3 linked regions of the Homo sapiens genome follow. The protein of the gene in region 1 interacts with the protein of each later gene in a biochemical or structural test. Each region holds a gene or a part of one and is shown in the gene's direction. Other genes may lie near its edges.

Region 1 (7,025 bases):
AAATAGAACTTGGAACTTTTTACAACTTTTAAAATACGATTTACTTTTAATGGGTTCAGATCAGAGAATTGTTTCCTTAGCTGTTAAAAAGGAATCAGAAAATTGTTCCTTCTGAGTCAGAAAATAAGGTCACAATAGAAATTTGATATGTTCCTTCCTGTCCACTCTGAAAATAGTAATAACTAGTGTCTTAAAGCACAGACTCATTCCCAGAAAACATCTATCACCAATTATTTGGCCCTTCCAATCTGAAGTTAAAATCAAATCTCTACTTGACTTAAAGGGGCTTATTTTTTCTGAAATTGGATACACAAGTGACAAATTGTGTGTGTTCCATAGCTGTGGTAAAACTTTTGACTTTCTTTCTTTGTACAACGTCTTTTATATCTCTAGGCAACAGGAAAGGATAAATTCACAGAGGGAAGAGATAGAAAGACAACGGAAAATGTTAGCAAAGCGGAAACCTCCTGCCATGGGTCAGGCCCCTCCTGCAACCAATGAGCAGAAACAGCGGAAAAGCAAGACCAATGGAGCTGAAAATGAAACGTATGTTCTTTATTGACGTGAACGCTGAGACACCACACCCTGCCCCCAAATACAAATGTTGATTGTCACCGGCAATAGTTTTAAATTCTTGAGGTCACTCAGGTTTAAACCTTCTTTTCAGTTACATTAATGGATTTGCTCAACTCATATAAATGCCATATAAAATTAATTGATTTTCTTAAACCTGCTCTTTCTTTAGGGCATTTTGAATGAGAGGGAAAAGTAATGTCACTTGACATCATGACTTTTGGCCACTCCTGGTTAACAAATAAGATGTCATTGTACTGAAATGATATTATTGCTTACATGTGGCTGCAGGGTGTGGTACACTAGTATCATCTTATGGGAGTTACCTGGCTGTTATTTCAGACTGAAGAATGCTCTTTACTGGTCAAAAGAGCACTTAGTTAATAGTCACAAACTTAGGATAAGCCCCCCAGAAAGCTGTTATGTTAGAAAAGGACATTGTCCCAATAAGCCACAACTTGATCTCATCAGAATTGTTTCCTGTTCTGGGAATCTAAGGAAAACACCAGTATCTTAAACTGCAGTACAGTCATCTTTTTCTCTGTCACTCAACAATATTTACATAGCTACCATATATAGGAGGAGTAGAAAATTCTAAGCACAAATGCCTGCCTTCTCCATTCTTCTCTTCCTTTCTGTTTAACTGAAAGTAAGTTTCAAGTCCAAAGATAGCTGCAGATAAAAGATATATAACTTATCAACTAATATGTCATTTGCTTTATGTTTTCATATTAGTTCACAAAAACAACACATAATCCACTTCAGGTATAATAATACTTGTATTATATTATTGTTAAAAGTCTGTGGCATCCTAGAAGTGCATCTTCTTTCATTCTAGTGAGAAAGATGGCTTAACACCAATCCTCACCCCATACATATCTGATGTTTTGGGAAGTCTCTTCCTTGATGTTCGTTTAGTAAGTTTATGTTAAATGCTTATTTTATGCTAGGCCCTCTTCTGGGAATACAGAGCTAAAGGATACAGCCCCAGCCTTAGGAGCCCACAGTTTACTTAGGTGAGATGAACAGACGAATAAACTAATAATTACATTAAGTATAGCGATAAAAATGTGCATAATGAACTTGGAAAACATCTTCATTCATATAACTCCAAATTTTGTTGTTGTTGTTTTTTTTTTTTGAGACGAAGTCTCACTCCGTCGCCCAGGCCAGAGTGCAGTGGTGCTATCTCGGCTCACTGAAACCTGTCTTCTGGGTTCAAGCGTTTCTCCTGCCTCAGCCTCCTGAGTAGCTGGGACTACAGGCGTGCACCACCATGCCCAGCTAGTTTTTGTATTTTTAGTAGAGATGGAGTTTCTCCATGTTGGCCAGGCTGGTCTTGAACTCCTGACCTCAAATGATCCACCCTCCTCGGCCTCCCAAAGTGCTGGGATTACAGGTGCGAGCTACTGCACCCAGCCCAAATGTTACAAAACTAGAGTCTTGTTTTCCCTTGATTTTAAAGACTAGTCAAGTGCAATAATGAGAATGAGAAGAGGGGAAGAGTATTGAGTCTTAAATATAAAGTATTTTCCTTTCAGCAAGTCCAAGTAGGGGCTCAAATTTGAAAGATTGTCCAGGCTAATTAATCTGACCAATGTTTTCTTTCATGACTCCTGTGTGTATTTTGTGAAGGGACTTTCCCTCTAGTATTATTTGAAAATTATTTAATGCTAATGCACAAAACCATTGGCTTAGGAGTGATAAAGAAAGCATAGGTTGTTTCTTTGCCACAGAAGAATAATTAGAATGCAATCTAGGCTAGTAATGTGTAAGCAATTGCTATCTGGTGTCCTGTGTAAAATCCAATCTGGAAGACTTTCAGTCCAGTTTTTAATTAGAGTATCTGTGACTTGGCTCTTACTTTGACCAGAAGCCAGAAGTAGGCCTCTGGGGTCTTGGAGTGAGCCATATTATCCTTTCTTGGCCCCGAACCTGTTTCAGACAGAGAATTCTTAGCCATCATTTTTAATTTTTCTGTTTTTCGCTGGTGTGGAATGGAGTAATAGATACAGGTATTTCTGCATCTGTAAAGAGATAGCCCTAGTGGGTGAGTTTCTTCTTCTTTCTATTTTTTCTTGAGTTAGACCTCAAAGGCTCTGTTCTGGTTGATAGGATAGATATTTCCCCTTTCTTCTGCTATTTAGAATATATCTAAACAGTGATATCTAAAAATATTAAATATCTATATGCTTCTAGAATGCGAAGAAGGTAGAGATGGAAGAAAAAATAATTCTCACTTGTTCATCTTTTTTTCTTTTATTTTCTTTCTTTCTGTCTTTCTCTCTCTCTCTCTTTCTTTTCTTTTCTTTTCTTTCTTGAGACAGAGCCTTGCTCTGTTGCTTGGGCTGGAGTGCAGTGACATGATTATAGCTCACTATAGCCTCAACCTTCTGGGCTCAAGCAATCCTTCCATCTCAGCCTCCTGAGTAGCTGGGACTACAGGCATGTGCCACCATGCCCAGCTTCTTTCTTCTTTTTTTCACAGAGACAGAGTGTTGCTTTGTTGCCCAGGCTGGTCTCAAACTCCTGGCTCCAAGTCCTTCCCGCTCAGCTTCCCAGAGTACTGGGATTACAGTGAGCCACCAAGCCTGGCCACTTGTTCATTCTTGAGATGTAAGGATGCTGTTGGAGTAGTTGGAACATGAAACACATGACTACCCATCAAGTCAGCCCTTTGAGAGTTGATTTAAATAGCATTTTCAATATTCTTTATATGTTGTCATTTAATAGTCACTCTTTCTTAGATAGGTATTATCACTTGCTGCATTTCAGGAAACTGAGTTAAAGAGGTTAAATTTGCTTGCGCAAGGTCACATGGCCAGTAGCTTAGTAGTGCTTTGAACCCTAGTCCTCAGACTCCAAATCCTAGACTCTAATTTGCTGCTATATCTTTCTCTTTGTTATTACAGTATCAAGGTTTAAGTATTAACAAGAATAATCAAATCCATTGGCTTATTGTTTTGCCCTCTAAAAAATTTTTAGAGAATTTTTGGCTGTCTCTGAATGAGTTTTTATCTTAGTAATATATGGCACAAAACTCATTTCAAAAATAATATAAAAATATGGCTCACTTTTTTTTCTTTTTTATGTTTTGCAAATTAGACTTCTGGCTTTGAAGTTCTTCCCTCACATCACATCTGGTAAATCACAGAAGTTTTCTCTTGTCAGAGGACTACAAGATAACCCATCTTTCAGTCATTTTAACTGAGACTGAAACTGAATATGTCTTATAGTATATTTGAGCATTTCTCTTTAAACAGGCAAACTATGATTTCTAGTAGTTTACTGAAACTTTTACCACTGTTTTTCAGGTTAACGTTAGCAGAATACCATGAACAAGAAGAAATCTTCAAACTCAGATTAGGTCATCTTAAAAAGGTAAGTATAATGAGAAAATCTCCCTGGAGAAATGTGATACCTAGTTTAAATTTGGGGTTGAAGCTATTTGGTCATTTGGGTGAATGTAATAGTAGCTGCACATAGCAGCAGAAAGCTTCAGTGACTGCTTTCACTGTCATGTCTTGTAGCCTAATGGTAGAACTCATATTTTTCCATTTTCTTTCTTCTTCTTTTTTTTTTTTTTGAGTTGGAGTCTCACTGTGTCTCCCAGGCTGGAGTGCAGTGGCACGATCTTGGCTCACTGCAACCTCCACCTCCCGGGCTCAAGCGATTCTCGTGTCTCAGCCTCCTGACTAGCTGGGATTACAGGCACGTGCCACCATACCCAGCTAATTTTTGTATTTTTAGTAGAGACGGGGGTCTCACCATTAGGCTGGTCTCGAACTCCTGACCTCAAGTAATCCTCCTGCCTCGGCCTCCCAAAGTGCTGGGATTACGGGTTACAGGTGTGAGCCACCATGCCTGGCCTATCTTTGCATTTTCAAGTCAATTCCAGCAACCCAATGACAGTGTTTTTCCCCCTAGTGATCTATCAGCAGATAATTCTGTACACATCATAAGGCTTCCCAAGTGGTTATCCTTGGAGTAAAATTTAAATATATAACAAGAGCAGATGGTTTTGAAATTGATGTGAAGACTCCTGTCATATTTCAAATCACATAGCAGCTCTTATTCCTTGCCTAAACTAGCTAAAAAGAGAAAGTGTTATGTGAACCTTATTCAAATACAAAGGCACATAACATAGAATTTGTTATTGATGATGTTCACTGAGATATCTTAGATGTGGATTACTCAGCTCTTAAAATTCAGAAGCCCATACATTGGTCGATGCTCTTTATAGGTGATAATGGTCAGTAAAGATTTACTAAACTGCTTTTGGTATGTGTGCTTTTGTTTTTTATTTCACATATTAGTTTTCATGCTGTTTTCCCACTGGGTTCTCAGAGCTTGTTAAATAAGTAGAACTTGCTGGGGATGGTGGCTCACACCTGTAATGCCAGCACTTTGGGAGGCTGTGGTGGGTGGATCACCTGAGGTCAGGAGTTCAAGACCAGCCTGCCCAGCATGGTGAAACCCCGACTCTACTAAAAATACAAAAAATTAGCTGGGCGTGGTGGCATGTACCTGTAATCCCAGCTACTCGGGAGGCTGAGGCAGGAGAATCACTTGGACCTGGGAGGCGGAGGTTGCAGTGAACCGAGATCGTGCCATTGCACTCCAGCCTGGGTGACAACAGCGAAACTCCATCTTAAAAAATAAAAATAAGTAGAACTTAAGTCACCAAGTGTAATCCATACTTAAAGATGAGAACCGAACCAGATAGATAACCTGATTTTTGTAAAAAATGTTTCCATGTCTAAATGTATATGCACAAAACATTCCTGAAAACTTATGTAAGAAACTTAATAGTGGTTATTACATCTCAGGAGTGGGCATGGAGAGGAGGGAGGAGGAGGGTAGGGAACTTTTACTTTTCTTACTGAACTCCTCTGTATGGTTTGAATTTTATTATTTTCTATGGGCTCATTTTTATGATTAAAATTCTTAAAGAAATCTTTCAATGCAAAGCACCTTCCTTTAGCCTTTCATAAGATAAATGTCTGCTATTGTTTTTGAAATAAGATCCCGAAAAGGTAAAGTTCCCCCTATTTTGTGCTATTTCTTTCCTTTTCGCTTTAGGAGGAAGCAGAGATCCAGGCAGAGCTGGAGAGACTAGAAAGGGTTAGAAATCTACATATCAGGGAACTAAAAAGGATACATAATGAAGATAATTCACAGTAAGCTACTTCAGGGCATATTGGGTTGGAGATTGCTAAGCATTTTATGATATGAATTGAATGGTCTAGAATAATGTGTTTGCTTAATGTAAGTTACATAAATGATTCCATGGTGTATTTAGCTCTTTTGTAGCATCTAATACAATTTTGTGAACAAAATTATGATTTGCCTTGGTTTAAATATACAATTGTATTAAATTTATATATTAAGTATATATGTGTATACATATAGCATTTTTACATGAATAAAGATTACTAAAACAATATGGCTTTGTAATTGTAAATGGTTGAGATATGTTGCATATTCAGATTTTCCTACAGAGCCTTAAGAAAGGGAAGATGGGTCACAGTGTGGTGTTGTGGAAAGAGTATTGGGTTGAGATGACACTCGGTTTCTGAATGACCTTTAAGGGCTATTCAGGTGTTGAGATTTTAAGTAAGACTCTTAAGTTCAGTACATTAATTGTAGATGAATTGAAACTGGGAAAAGTAGGTTGAAAGTAGAAAGGGGTTTTTATAAGTAATCTGTTTTTTCCCCATATTTTTTGGACCCTGAAACATTTTTTCATAAAGCCATAGCTTGTATATTTTTGTTTGGCTTATATGAGCTTTGGACCTGTCTTTCTGTTAAAGTGGCAGACAACAGCAGGTACCACTTCCTGAGAGCTCTCTGTGTATCAGGCTTGGTCCTAAGTGCCCTTAGTGCTCTCATTTAATCCGCAGGATAACCCAGTCATCTTTAATACATTAATCAGAAAACAAGCTTAGAGAAATTAAATTAACTTGCCCAGGGACCCATAAATAATGTGACCAAAGAGTTCAACTTGGATCTTTTTCATCTAAACCACCATGCAGTAATGTCTCTCCAGATAGGCATCCTACTTTCTTAAAATCCATGTAAAGTAATTTCAGAATTAATAGTGAGATTGTTTAAGATCAGGAACTAGGTAAAAATATTTTTAAATTTGTTTTTGCCAGAACTTGTCATTTCTTTATCATATTATTAAGAAAATACCCAAGGTAGAGTCTAATATGGGGAACACAGTTATATCTGTCTTAAAGAGAGAATAATGAATGCACATAGAACATGTGACTCACTTTAAAATCAAATCTGTTTTTAAGGAAATAGCAAGTGTCTTGGAATTTTACTGTATGTAGTTTTGAAATGGTGGGAACATGTGGCCCTTGAATAGTTTGGAGGAGCCAAATAGCACAATCTAAAAATCTCTAATCTACCCTCCCTCATTGTATAGCAGGGCAGAAAAAAGGAGG
Region 2 (7,161 bases), on another chromosome or scaffold:
GAAAGGAGACATCACCTCGTATCCTTGGCTTCTCATTACGTCATCGATTACAATCACAAGTCTCATTTCCTACAAGCCTGAAAGCGGGTTCTTCTCTGCATGTAGGAAAAAGCCCCGCTTACTAACTCTGCCCTCAAAGAGATCACAAGCTGGTCCTGAACGCCCTGTGCCCTGGGAATGCTTACTGTCGAAGCTCTGCAAATTTTCTCATTGAAGGCACTCAGGGCATTCTGCTAATTAAATTAGGAAAATGTGTACAGCTCTACTTGAAAAAATCCAGGTTTATGCTCTGTATTCTATTACCAAAGAATTTATCACTTTTCAAATAACATTCAATTATTTTAAACTGAGTGTGCAGTGAGAGCATTTATAATATAATCTCATTTCCAGAGTGTTCCATCCCAACTCCTCTCTGGTATAAGTAGCTTAGAAGGTTAGATTTTTTTTTTCCAGAGGATTAAACATTCGAGAAGAGTGGCTAAGAGGCAGCACCAGGTTTCTCTCATTTCCTCAAAGAGAATTTAGCCTTGTGAAGAAGAATAAAGTGAAGGTCAATGGTTAGATCCATGGCTTAAAAATAAAATGCAGCTTTCCTTACTCTGAATTTACCATAACCAAAAAGGCCACGAGGCAGCCATTAATGATCCTAAGTTGCAACAGAAAGAAAAAAACACCTACTTAGGGTTAAACGAGGATTCAGTGGTCACTTGCCGCCGGCCTCCACTTCACAGGGGCGGAGGATGAGGCCAGGGAAGACTTTCTTACCCACACTGACCTGACCAGAGATGAAACTCCCCCTCCTATGACAGCCTGCACTCAGAGGCTGATTCTGAAATAGTCATGCCAAATGCAGCCAATCCCTGTGTACAAGGAGAAAAAATAGTTCCTCAGAGCTGTGTCCTTGGGCCAGCCATCTGGACCTCTCACAATCTCTTTCGTTCTCCCTACACTTGGGCTGAATCCCGCCTTCCTTGCCTGCCAGGTTTGGTTTGGGGGCCAAATGAGTGAAAGTCCGTGAGATACCCCTAAGTATTGAAGTGCGTAGTAAATGATAATAGCCCTGATTTGTTGAACATGATGATGTGCCAGGCATTGCGCAAAGCATCATTTCATCATCACAACAAACACTGCTGGGAGGCAGGGACACCCCCACCCTCCTTGTACACCCAGAAGTAGGACTTTGGTTAAATGGCTCTCCCAAGGCCTCACAGCCTTAAAAACTCAAGCACTTATTTAATCCCCAATGATACTACCTTTTGGCCATGCAATGTGTCATGGCCAGTAATTAGATTTGCAAACACATATAACCAAAGAGGATTAGAAGAGACATATATTCTATATAAATTACATGAAAATAGCACTTTCAGTATTTTCCTGATTTTTTCTGGTAATTAAAAATGATTGCCCTTTATATTTCTTTATGGATACAGTTGCATTGTTTTTAGCCAATTGTAGCCCCCCCCTTTAAAGAGTGAATTAGTGGGAAAATAGTGTTATCCAAGATTTTAAGAATCTAGTGTGTGTGTTTGTGTGTGTAGGATGGGTTTTTCTGAAATATTTTACTTGCATGTGAATGTATAATTTTAAAGATTGGCTTTTAAAATACTGAATTGAGGTAAATTCAGCTTTTCTTGCAGACTCTTTACGATAAATGTGAAATTGAAAATGGAAATGCTCCATTCAGATGGTGTGCCGACTACAACCTCAACATACGGATAATTCACTAAATAAGTAACTTCCTCGTGGAATATCACGGTCAGCCTTTGTTTTGGGTACACATTCAATGAACTGGTTTCCTATTAGTTTCTGCTTGTCAACAAGTTGTGTCATTTACTGATAAATATCCAGCCTTTTACTAAGGAATACCGATTTTCTCAAGTCTCAGTGTGTGGAGGGGGTGGGAGTTTGGTGGGGAAGCTTTTCAATTTGAGAACCTTTGCCGTTTTTTGTTTCAATCGTGACTAAGATATAAAAGTCCTTGGTCACCACTGCCAGCTGCTACCTGTTCACTGCCTCCCTGACGGGTAATGAGGCCATCCGGAGTTTTAGTGATTAAAATGTTTTATTACTTGTATTCACATCATCATTAAGAAAAATAACTTCTAGTGGATCAATATGGCAAATGAGTAAACCAGAAGATGGCGTTGAAGATTAGCAATTACATTTAAAAACAAGGTAGTGGTGTGAAGGCTCAGAGTTTCACACAACGACTGTTGTTCTGAACTAAAAGCAGAGGATGTGGATGAGTGAGGGGAGGGTATGTTGAAAATGACTAAACCCGGTGCAGAGGACACGTATACGAAAGTGCAAAAAGCTCTCATTTGCCATTTTTTGTCCTCAGCAAACTCCTCTCTGGTATGTTTGTGAACGTTTGAGGGAAAGGTAACACTGATTAAAATATAATGCAACAAGAAGGCAACGATCTTTGCTTTGTTCACTGATGTGTTCCAAGTGCCTAGGACGGTTCCTGACAAGTAGCAGGTGCTCAAAATACATTTGTCAAGTGAATAAATCTGTGAAAGGAAAGGAAGAAAAACAGGTTGTGACCAGAACTTTTTGTGAACAAAACCCTGTTGTTTATTACATAGACTTTGGTAATGGAAAACTTACTTGGGTGAAATAAAAAATGGCATCCTGTTAATTTCTGAGAACGTCTGTTGGTTTTAGGAAAAGCATACCTATCCATACCTCACTACCTGTTTTGCTCTAGCCTAAACATAGATTCTTCTTTGGTTAGGAGACATTGACCCAATATATAAGATTAAAACAAAAACTGAGAAATAAGTGAAATCAAAAGCTTTTCAAAAGTTGCAGGTTGACCTACGGTGGTGGTGGTCTAAAATCATATAGAAACCAGAGATCTGATGGTTTACCTGAAAATGCGAAGTAAATGCACATACTCAGCATCTCAGACGATCGAAAGCTCAACGGGTGAAAGCTCAGGGGGTTAATTTTGCGATTAAGGACATCTTGGAAAAGTATGTAAAATCCCTGGTCCACTTAAGTATTATTCCTATTTTGGGCTTTTATTTATTTATTTTGAGATGGAGTCTTGCTCTGTCGCCCACCTCGGCTCACTGCAACTTCAGCCTCCCGGGTTCAAGCGATTCTCGTGGCTCGTCCTCTCAAGTAGCTGGGGCCACGCCCGGCTAATTTTTGTATTTTTAGTAGAGATGGGGTTTCACCGTGTTGGCCAGGCTGGTCTCGAACTCCTGACCTCAGGCGATCCACCGCCTCGGCCTCCCAAAGTGCTGGGATTACAGGCTTGAGCCACAGCGCCTGGCCTATTTTGGGCTTTTATACCCCACTGGTAAACTGCTTTCCTCCAGGTTGAGGTTAAAACGACATCATTTTAAGGTGAACTGAAGTCTGGAAGTGATTAAGCACTTGGATCCTTAGGGAGCCTCTCCCCGCCCCCATCTCTTTCATGCTAAGATAATTAAAACTTCGGGGCCGGGGCATTGTCTGAGTCACTTCAATTCACCAGCCTAATAGATGCAAAAGGATGTAAGCATGTCAGACACGCAGAGACAGTATTTGAATCAAGCTTAATAGCTCAAGGGAGCTGGGCCATTTCCTATTTTCTTTTTAGTGAGTGCGATGTTCTCTAAACACCGCGGAGAGGCAGGGTTCCCGGTGATGGCCTTGCCGAGGGTGCTCCCGCAACCTCCACCTCCAGTTCTCTTTGGACCATTCCTCCGTCTTCCGTTACACGCTCTGCAAAGCGAAGTCCCCTTCGCACCAGATTCCCGCTACTACACGCCCCCCATTTCCCGCCCTGGCCACATCGCTGCAGTTTAGTGATTGACTGGCCTCCTGAGGTCCTGGCGCAAAGGCGAGATTCGCATTTCGCACCTCGCCCTTCGCGGGAAACGGCCCCAGTGACAGTCCCCGAAGCGGCGCGCGCCCGGCTGGAGGTGCGCTCTCCGGGCGCGGCGCGCGGAGGGTCGCCAAGGGCGCGGGAACCCCACCCCGGCCGCGGCAGCCCCCAGCCTTCACGCCGGCCCTGAGGCTCGCCCGCCCGGCCGGCCCCGGCTCTCGGCTTGCAAAGTCCCTCTCCCCAGTCCAACCCCCGGCCCCCACAGGCCTCGGCGCCCCGCCCCGCCCCAGGCCCCGCCCCAGAGAGTTCTATAAAGTTCCTCTTTCCCACCTCGCACTCTCAGTTTCACCGCTCGATCTTGGGACCCACCGCTGCCCTCAGCTCCGAGTCCAGGGCGAGGTAAGGGCTGGAGTCGGGCAGGAGGAGGGGTGTGAGGCTGATACCAGAGAGGACCCGGAGCGCGAACCAGAGGTTCGACCTCCAGGGCAGCGCAGGGTACCCCGGCTTCGGAGCGGGAAGGGAGCGCGCCCCGTCCTGGAGCTCCGACTCCCACCCCATCTGCGCTGAGCCGGAGGCGCTGGTTTGGGCTCCAAGGCCCGCCTCCTTGGCTCTGCCCGAGCCTCCCCGCCTGCCCTCCGCGCTCCTGCGACGGGGTCGCCACAAGCTGGACGGGATGAGCTAACCGGACTGTCGGGGCCCCAGGAGTGGCTGAGGCGGGGCCGTCCAAGGCACCCACACAAGACGGCACAACTGCCTGCGAGAAACAGGCCCGGCCCTGTGGACCCCAATCCGAGGCTCCTTCCCCTGCTCTTCGTTCCTAAGGGGCCCAAGCTCACGGCGGCCTCCGGCGCGGTGCTCACCCGCTGGCGCAGGAGGAGGAGGAGCTCCACATTTGGGTCGCTCCGAGCCTTGCGTGCGGTGGCCTAGCCGGCCTGGCGCGGTCCCTGCCTCCCAGGCTCCGCAGCTGTCGTCGCCCTCTCCCGCGCCCTCCCCGCCTCCGCTCTCCCGGGCCTGCTCCGGGGTCCGGCGGACGCTCTGCGCGCGGAATCCCCCGTACTGGGGCTGCAGCCCCCGCGTCTGCGCCACTTGTCGTTTGCAGAGCCCACTTAGTGCGCGCTAGCTGGGCAGGGATAGGGGTCCTATTCGGGGCGAAGGGTCTGGATGCGAGCAGAGAAAGCGGAGGGTGGAGGAACCCGGGGCTGCGCCCCTGGAACGCCCGGCCGCAGGCGAGGTCCTCCGCGCGTGGAGGCCGCCAGGGGAGTGGAAACTGACAGAGTCGCGGGGAAGGGGCGAGAAGCGGGTTGGGAGTGAGCGAAGGCAAGCGAGAGCTGCGAGTGAGTGCGGAAGGAGGGCCAGGAGGGGTGGCGGCTGGGTGGGGAGAGAGGGTGCAAGACGAGCGGCGCGTGTCGGGAGCCTTTGGGCTGCGGGTGCGTTACAGGAGAGCAGGCGGGTAGGAGCCTTCGCGGGGGCCGAGCTCGGAAGGCGGACGGCTGTGCCCGCCCAGGGGATGCGCCCGGGCCGGCCGCGAAGGTGCCTTCTTCCGGGGGCCCGGACGACCCTGACACGGCACGCGCGCGCTTCGCAGCCTCAAAGACTCCGGGGCCTCGTGGTCACTGGCGCAGGGGATCGGGGCGGGGTGCCCGGAGTGCGGTGCCTCGTGGCTGAAGGGCAGCTCTTCTCCCCGCAGTGCAGAGCAGAGCGGGCGGAGGACCCCGGGCGCGGGCGCGGACGGCACGCGGGGCATGAACCTGGAGGGCGGCGGCCGAGGCGGAGAGTTCGGCATGAGCGCGGTGAGCTGCGGCAACGGGAAGCTCCGCCAGTGGCTGATCGACCAGATCGACAGCGGCAAGTACCCCGGGCTGGTGTGGGAGAACGAGGAGAAGAGCATCTTCCGCATCCCCTGGAAGCACGCGGGCAAGCAGGACTACAACCGCGAGGAGGACGCCGCGCTCTTCAAGGTCTCCGGCCTCGGGAGCCGGCGGGGGCGCGCCGGGGAGGGCCCAGAGACAGAGCCCGGGGTCCCCGGCGCCGCCTCCGAGGCGAGCCCAGGGGACCGCGCGGGGCGGACGGGCGGGCGGCGGAGGCATCAGGTGGCGTCGCCGGAGCCGCAGGAGGAGGAAAGGAGGCCTCGGCTCTCAGCGGGACCGCGGGGGCCGGGAGCCGGGTCCTGGGCGCGTGGAGGCTGCAGGGAAACCGCTGAAGGCCCGGCCGGGCCCGGGGAAGGGCGGCCAAAGGCTTGAGGGGTTTTGCGCGTTCGTCCGTGCGTTCTCGTTTCCACGCAAGCCTCCCGCCCTTCCTCCGGGCTCCCGTCTGCCGCCTCCGTCCGTGGGTCCCCCTCGCCCTCTCCGTGCGTCCGCGCCTGTGCCGGCGGCTGTTTTCGTCTCTCACCGCGTCTCTGTTTCTCTTTTCGCTGCTTTTCTCTCTGAGTCTCTCTCTCTCCATGTTTTTCCTGAGGTCAGCCTCTCTTCTCGCTCCTGCTAGCTCTCTGCGGGTACTCCCACCTCTGTCTTTCTCTTTGTGTGTCTCTGTCTCTCTCTTTCCCCCATCGCAGTGGAACTCAGGGCCTCTGTCTAGAGCTGTCTCCCTTGCCCTTTGCGCGAGTGCACACACGTGTGTCGTTGTTACGATTGTTCTCCCCTAAGGCAGTTTACCCAGAGAACTACGTGTCTGGGCCCAGCCCCCACCTGTGGGCAGAGCAGGGGAAGGGGACTTCCTCCGGGAATTTGGTCTCAATTTGCTCTCAGAGTGCCTCAGCTGTGCTGCCATCCAGATGTCTCCTGTGGGTGACAGCTCACACCACAGCTGTCCTTAGTCCTAGGCAAGCTCACTCAGACACTGGGTGGGTAGAGCCCCCTCAAGGAACCTCCGCATCTCACTCTACCGGTTATAAATACCCAGAAAATGTGTCTTCAACTTGGCAGTGATAGGGTCCAAGATGGAAAATCATTTTCCTAGAGCATAGCTGGGGTCTTTCAGTTTACGTTCTGAGCAACGGTGTAAATCTGAAGGACCTATGCGCCATTCTTTCTTTTAGAAATACAATTTCAAGATTCCTTATAAAATATCTGTATTTTGGGTTTAGCATGGTGGCTCACACCTGTAATCCCAGCACTTTGGGAAGATGAGGTGGAAGGATGCCTATGCAACATAGTGAGACCCTGCCTCTGCAAAAAATAATAATTAAAAAAATTAGCCAGGCATGGTGGTGAACACCTGTAGGCCGAGGGCCCAGCTACTCTAGAGGCTGAGATAGGAGGACCCTAGAACTCAGGAGTTCGATGCTGCGGTGAGCTATCATCGTGCCACTGTACTCTAGCCTGGGCAGCAGAGCAGGACTCTGA
Region 3 (7,025 bases), on another chromosome or scaffold:
CTGTAATTCCAGCTACTCAGTAGGCTGAGACAGGAGAATCGCTTGAACCTGGGAGGCAGAGATTGCAGTGAGCCAAGATCACACCATTGTACTCCAACCTGGGTGACAAGAGTGAAACTCCATCTCAAAAAAGAAAAAAAAAATTAGCTAGGCGTGGCAGCGGGCACCTATAATCCCAGCCACTCGGGAGGCTGAGGTATGAGAATCACTGGAACCTGGGAGGCGGAAGTTGCAGTGAGCTGAGATCGCATCACTGTATTCTAACCTGTGTGACAGAACGAGACTCCATCTCAAAAAAAAAAAAAAATACAAGAGCCTATCCCTGCCTTCTTGCTGTTGAGCTATTTCAATTAGTTAACCCTCCTATATCTTTGCAGACCTGGAGTGGAAGATCATTTATGTTGGCTCGGCTGAGAGTGAGGAATTTGATCAGATCCTAGACTCGGTGCTGGTGGGCCCTGTGCCAGCAGGGAGACACATGTTTGTCTTTCAGGTAAGAAAGATGAGGCCTTAGGCCTTAGCCCTTGATTCCTAGAAACATCCTCTTTTACCTGAAATCCCACAGAGTGCTTCAGGAATCAAAAGTTCAAGTTCAGCTGGGCACGGGCTCACGCCTATAGACCCAGCTACTCCAGGGACTGAGGTGAGAGGATTGCTTGAGCCCGGGAGTCTGAGGCTGCAGTGAGCCACTGCACTCCAGCCTAGGCAACACAGTGAGACCCTGTCTCTAAAAAAGAAAAAAACAAGTATTAAAAACATAGAGGCCGGGCACAGTTGCTCACACCTGTAATCCCAGCACTTTGGGAGGCCGAGGTGGGAGGATTGCTTGAGGCCAGGAGTTTGAGACCAGCTGGGGCAATATAGTGAGACCGCATCTCTACAAAAAATGTAAAAATCAGCAGAGCATGGTGGTGTGCGCCTGTAGTCTCAGATACTTGGGAGGCTGAAATGGGAGGATCACTTGAGCCTGGGAGATGGAAGCTACAATGAGCCAAGACCACACCACTGCACTCCAGCCTGGGCAACAGTAAGACCCAGTCTCAATCAATCAATTAAAACAATTTAAAAGTTCAGGTTCAAATCCTAGTTCTACTGTCAGGAACTATCTGACCTCTCAGAGGCCGTCAGGCCCTCCCTTCCCCCACCTCTGTGTCAAAGCTGCCACTGATTTACAGGCAATTCCCATTATTTACAAGAGTTACGTTCTATAAAGTTGCCGCGAACACTGAATTAGTGAATACTGAACCATTGCCCCAGGGGAAATACAGGGTTAGATTCTTGGAAGTCACATTTTCGTCAGCTGGTTAATACGTAAACTTGTATGTGTGTTTATGTTGAAAAGACACCAGGACGGCTATGATGGCTCAAACCTGTAATCCCAGCACTTTGGGAGGCTGAGGTGGGTGGATCGCCTGAGGTCAGGAGTTCAAGACCAGCCTGGCCAATGTGATGAAACCCCGTCTCTACTAAAAATACAAAAATCAGCCAGGTGTGGTGGCGCATGCCTGTAATCCCAGCTACTCGGGAGGCTGCGGCGGGAGAATCGCTTGAACCTGGGAGATGGAGATTGCAGTGAGCTGAGATCGCACCAGTGCACTCTAGCCTGGGTGATACAGCGATACTCTGTCTCAGAAAAAAAGGAAAGATACCTTATTTAATATATACAGTGGTTCATTTATGTTGAATTCACAGCCAACAGCACTATAACTCTCCTGAATGAAACTTCTCTAATACGCATATTTTCCATAAAGCCTTTCTTGTATCCTACACTGCACTTCAGCACTACCGTTGGGTGCCATCATAGACAGCAAACTCACCAACAAAAAGCACAAAACATGGAAAAAAGCACTAAGTAGGCTGAGGAAAGGACGCTCATTCACAGTGAGAGCTGAGACCAGAAGACAGAGTGTTGCCTTGTTTGACCTCAGGTGGGAACAGGCGTGGTAGGTAACTCTAGGTGGGAACAGGCATGGTAGGTAACTCCAGTTTTTCCCTGCTCTGTGCATGTCTGCAAGTGACTGTGAAAGCAAGCAGGTGTTCATCTTGGGGTTACAAATAAACTTAGCAGGTAGGTGAACTTGCACATATGGAACCCATGAATAATGAGGATGGACTGTAACTCCTAAATGGCTCTCATGCAGCACCCCACCTGGGTTGTCAAATGTAGATTCTGGCCGGGTGTGGTGGCTTCCAGCACTTTGGGAGGCAGAGGCGGGAGGACTGCTTAAGGCCAGGAGTTCCAGACTAGCCTGGGCCACATAGCGAGACCCCCATCTCTACAAAAAATAGAAAAATTAGCCGGGTGTGGTGGCTTGCACCTGTCGTCCCAGCTACTTGGGAGGCTGAAGCAGGAGGCTTGCTTGAGCCTGAGAGTTTGAGGCTACAGCGAGCTATGATTGCACCTCTGCACTGCATTCTGGGTGACAGCGAGACCTGTCTCTACAAAAAAAACATTAACCAGGCATAGTGATGCAGGCCTGTAGTGCCAGCTACTAGGGAGGCTGAAGCAGAAGACTCACTTGAGGCCAGGTGCCATGGCTCACACCTGTAATCTCAACACTTTGGGAGGCTGGGGCAGGCAGATCACTTGGGGTCAGGAGTTAAAGACTAGCCTGGCCAACATGGTGAAACCCTGTCTCTACTAAAAAATACAAAAATTAGCTGGATGTGGTGGTGCACATTTGTTATCCTAGCTACTCGGGAGGCTGAGGCACGAGAATTATTTGAATCCAGGGGGCGGAAGTTACAGTGAGCTGAGATTGCGCCACTGCACTCGAGCCTGGGCAACAGAGTGAGACCCTGTCTCTAAAAAAAAAAAAAAAAAAAAATAGGCTCGCTTGAGCCCAGGAGTTCCAGGAGTTTACAGTGATCTGTGATTGCACCACTGCACTCCAGTCTGGATGACAGAGGGAAAAGCTATCTCTTTAAAAAAAGAAGGCCGGTGCAGTGGCTCACGCCTGTAATCCCAGCACTTTGGAAGGCCAAGGTGGGCGGATCACAAGGTCAGGAGATTGAGACCATCTTGGCTAACATGGTGAAGCCCCATCTCTACTAAAAAATACAAGAAATTAGCCAGGCCTGGTGGCGGGCACCTGTAGTCTCAGCTACTCAGGAGGCTGAGGCAGGAGAATGGCGTGAACCTGGGAGGCGGAGCTTGCAGTGAGCCGAGATCACGCCACTGCACTCCAGCCTGGGTGACAGTGAGACTCCATCTCAAAAAAAAAAAAAAAAAAAAAGAAGAAAGAAAAAACAAATGGAGATTCTGAGTTCTCCAGGTGATTTTTCAGGATCCTCTGCTCGGATACACTCCCTTACCTCCATCACTGCTGTTACCGCCCTAATCCAAGCTACCACATCCTATCTAACCCCTTCAGCCACCACTACTAAATCCACTGACAGGCCCTATCTACTCAACAGTCAGGACTGGCCTCCTGGGTGTGCAACCCAGGCAGCTGCACAGGACCCCACACTTGGTGCGATACTCTGCTGTCACCGTCTGAAACCTAATAGCTTTTCTGGAGGGGCGTGGTGTTTTCATTTTGCATTGGTTTTATTTTGCACCAATTACGTGGCTGGTCTTGTTTGCAGTAGTACACCCTGAATCTGTTCTTTACTGCCTGGTCTAAGCCAAGTCCACTGCCTCTCCAGGATGACTGGTGTAAGCCTTCTGCTCCACTACAGTCTCCTGTCACGGCTCCACACTTTGCCAGAGGCTTCTTTTCAGATCACAAGAGTGATGTGGCACTTAACCTCCTGCTTACTCTCTTGCCCTTTCCCAATCCCTTAGCTGGCCCCCGGGTGGCCTGATACCACCTGCCTCACCTGTTCAGCTTCATGCCACTGTCCCCCGGCTCACCACACTCCTCCAGAGTACCACGCACCTCTCCCTGCCACAGTCAACGTTTTGTAGTCATTTGTGGGATTGATTCTGTGTTTCCATCAGTTGACAACTCCTGGCTGGGCACAGTGACTCACACCTGTAATCCCAGCCCTTTGGGAGGCTGAGGTGAGAGGATCGCTTGAGCCCAGGAGTTTGAGACCAGCCTGGGCAACATGGAGAAACCCTGTCTCTACAAAAAATAATTGGCTAGACATGTTGGCACACACCGTTGTCCCAGCTATTTGGGAGGCTGAAGCAGGAGGATTGCTTGAGCCCAGGAGTTCAAGGATGCAGTGAGCCATGATGGCGCCATTGCACTCCAGCCTGGGTAACAGAGGGAGGCCAGACCCTGTGTAAAAAAAAAAAAAGTCCAGGCGCAATGGCTCACACCTGTAATCCCAACACTTTGGGAGGCCGAGGTGGGCAGATCACCTGAAGTCAGGAGTTTAAGACCAGCCTGGCCAACATGGTGAAATCCCGTCTGTACTAAAAATACAAAAAAAAGGCTGGGCGCAGTGGCTCACACCTGTAATCCCAACACTTTAGGAGTCCAAGACGGGTGGATCACCTGAGGTCAGGAGTTCGAGACCAGCCTGGCCAACATGGCGAAACCCCATCTCTACTAAAAATACAAAAATTAGCCGGGCATGGTGGTGGGCACCTGTAATCCCAGCTACTCGGGAGGCTGAGGCAGGAGAATCGCTTGAACCCGTGAGGCGGAGGTTGCAGTGAGCCGAGATCGCACCATTGCACTTCAGCCTGGGCAACAGAGCAAAACTCCATTAAAAAAAAATACCAAAAAAAAAAAAAAGTTAGCCGGGTGTGGTGGTGTGTGCCTGTAGTCCCAGCTGCCTGGGATGCTGAGGCAGAATTGTTTGAACCCGAGAGGCAGAAGTAAAAAAAAGAAAACTGAGGGCAGAGAGCATACTTTTTGCTCAGTAAATACATGATGCTTGGGAATCTTTGTACTAATGACATCGAGGCATGGCTGTGGCACTGCTAAGGCCTAGGATGTGTCTCCCCTAGGCCGACGCCCCCAACCCATCCCTCATCCCAGAGACTGATGCCGTGGGTGTGACTGTGGTCCTCATCACCTGCACCTACCATGGACAGGAGTTCATCCGAGTGGGCTACTACGTCAACAACGAGTACCTCAACCCTGAGCTGCGTGAGAACCCGCCCATGAAGCCAGATTTCTCCCAGGTGGGGCCTGTTTCCACTTCCTGCTTCCCACAAGGCCGTTCTTTATACTTGGGGGGAGTTCAGCCATTCAAATTGAGAGTCAAGGTCACTTCTTAAGGTTTTCAAGTAATATTCAGTTCTTACAGTACTGTGTTAGAAGAGGAGAAAAAGACCTTTGTCTCTCAAAGGCATGTCTTAGAGAATTAAGATTAGGCCAGCCTGGGCAACATAGTGAGACCCTGTCCCTAACCCCCGCAAAAAAAAAAAAAAAAAAAAATGAGCCAGACATGGGTGGTGTGCTCTACTCTGGAGGCTGAGGTGGGAGGATCGCTTGAGCCCAGGAGTTTGAGGCTGCAGTGAGCTCAGATCGTGCCACTGCATTCCAGCCTGACCAACAGAGTGAGACTGTCCCTTAAAAAAAAAAAGTCCTGGGCCAGGCACAGTGGCTCACGCGTTGTAATCCCAGCACTTTGGGAGGCCGAGGCTGTAGGATCACCTGAGGTCAGGAGTTTGAGACCAGCCTGGCCAACATGGTGAAAGCCCGTCTCTACTAAAAATACGAAAATGAGCCAGGTATGGTGCCTTGCACCTGTAGTCCCAGCTACACAGGAGGCTGAGGCAAGAGAATCGCTTGAACCCGGAAGGCAGAGGTTGCAGTGAGACGAGATCACAGCATTGCACTCCAGCCTGGGCAACAAAAGCAAAACTCCGTCTCAAAAAATAAATAAATAAATAAATAAATAAGGTCCTGGCCACAGGTGTTTTCTGGAGTTCCATATGTAGGTTGCTCTTGCTGGGCTTGAGATGGGTGATTGGGGGTGTCCTGGCTCTATGGGACCAAGGAGAGGGCGTACCTACAAGGGTTGACGTTCCTCTTCCTGCCCCAGCTCCAGCGGAACATCTTGGCCTCGAACCCCCGGGTGACCCGCTTCCATATCAACTGGGACAACAACATGGACAGGCTGGAGGCCATAGAGACCCAGGACCCCTCCCTGGGCTGCGGCCTCCCACTCAACTGCACTCCTATCAAGGGCTTGGGGCTCCCTGGCTGCATCCCTGGCCTCCTCCCTGAGAACTCCATGGACTGCATCTAACTGCAGGAACCCAGAGTGTCCCAGCACGCCGGGAGGGGCAACCAGGCCTCCCAGCGAGTCCTGCAGGGCCCATCTAGAGGACTTTGGGGGCCATCAGCTGCAATCCAGGTCTGTCAAACTCAGCCCCTAGGAAAGAACAGGCCTTGGGTCTCCCCTAGTCCTGGCCAGAAGGATGATCTCGCTTTTCCTCTACAGGCCTATAAGAAGCAGGTACTTCAGTTCTAAATTCTGACTTGTGTTCTTTTCGTCTTCATAAATTCTAACTAAGGCCACTGTGCCACTGTGCACCCTTGAGTACCATTGATCCAAAGCTTTCCCACAGACCTCCCTGGCCCACCTAGAGGCTTTCTTGGTCAGTGCCTGTCAAGGCTCCAGTCCTGCTGAGCCAAAGGCTTTGTCATTCCTTTCTCTTCCTGTACATCTGAGCAGACCCACTCCAGCTTTCTGGTGTCACAGGCGGGAATGTTAGTTAGTAGGTAGACTTAGATCCCATTTCTGTCCTGCTCCCAGGAAGATTCTTAGGTCCTCTTCAATCCAGCAGCCCCTCCCAGAGGTGTGATCAGCAGGATGCTGAGGAACCATGTTGCCTTTCCTGTCAATCACAGCCACCTTCCTGTTATCTCCTAAATGGATCTGGCTTTTCCTGGAGGCTGCCATGGTTGGAAGATGGTATCAGAGGGCCTGCCTGGGCAGTCTGTCTCCGGGCCAGGGTCAGGGACCCTCTGCCTCTGGCAGCCTTAACCTGTCCTCTGCTAGGACCAGGGTGATTTCAAGCCAGGGAAGCAACTGGGACCCTGAAAACTGTCCCTCCCCAGCCCGCTCCCCCTCTCTGTGCCCTGGTCCCCTTGCTGCCATGTGGATGCTGTTGT

Evidence for each region. The genes of interacting proteins can lie anywhere in the genome.
Region 2: the proteins of TLK2 (region 1) and IRF4 form a complex in vitro, tested with the Homo sapiens proteins (one study listed by BioGRID).
Region 3: of the proteins of TLK2 (region 1) and ASF1B, one has a biochemical effect on the other in vitro, tested with the Homo sapiens proteins (3 studies listed by BioGRID).

Annotation. Positions count from the first base shown.
Region 1 is NC_000017.11:62,572,822-62,579,846, forward strand, and holds part of TLK2 (serine/threonine-protein kinase tousled-like 2), read left to right. Parts: intron 1-393; coding exon 394-546; intron 547-1,523; coding exon of another isoform or gene 1,524-1,589; intron 1,590-3,887; coding exon 3,888-3,954; intron 3,955-5,655; coding exon 5,656-5,753; intron 5,754-7,025. UniProt on the Homo sapiens protein: Serine/threonine-protein kinase involved in the process of chromatin assembly and probably also DNA replication, transcription, repair, and chromosome segregation. Phosphorylates the chromatin assembly factors ASF1A and ASF1B.
Region 2 is NC_000006.12:387,591-394,751, forward strand, and holds the start of IRF4 (interferon regulatory factor 4), read left to right. Parts: upstream 1-4,161; 5' UTR 4,162-4,219; intron 4,220-5,507; 5' UTR 5,508-5,562; coding exon 5,563-5,778; intron 5,779-7,161. UniProt on the Homo sapiens protein: Transcriptional activator. Binds to the interferon-stimulated response element (ISRE) of the MHC class I promoter. Binds the immunoglobulin lambda light chain enhancer, together with PU.1.
Region 3 is NC_000019.10:14,119,590-14,126,614, reverse strand, and holds part of ASF1B (histone chaperone ASF1B), read left to right. Parts: intron 1-377; coding exon 378-493; intron 494-4,906; coding exon 4,907-5,083; intron 5,084-5,949; coding exon 5,950-6,156; 3' UTR 6,157-7,025. UniProt on the Homo sapiens protein: Histone chaperone that facilitates histone deposition and histone exchange and removal during nucleosome assembly and disassembly. Cooperates with chromatin assembly factor 1 (CAF-1) to promote replication-dependent chromatin assembly.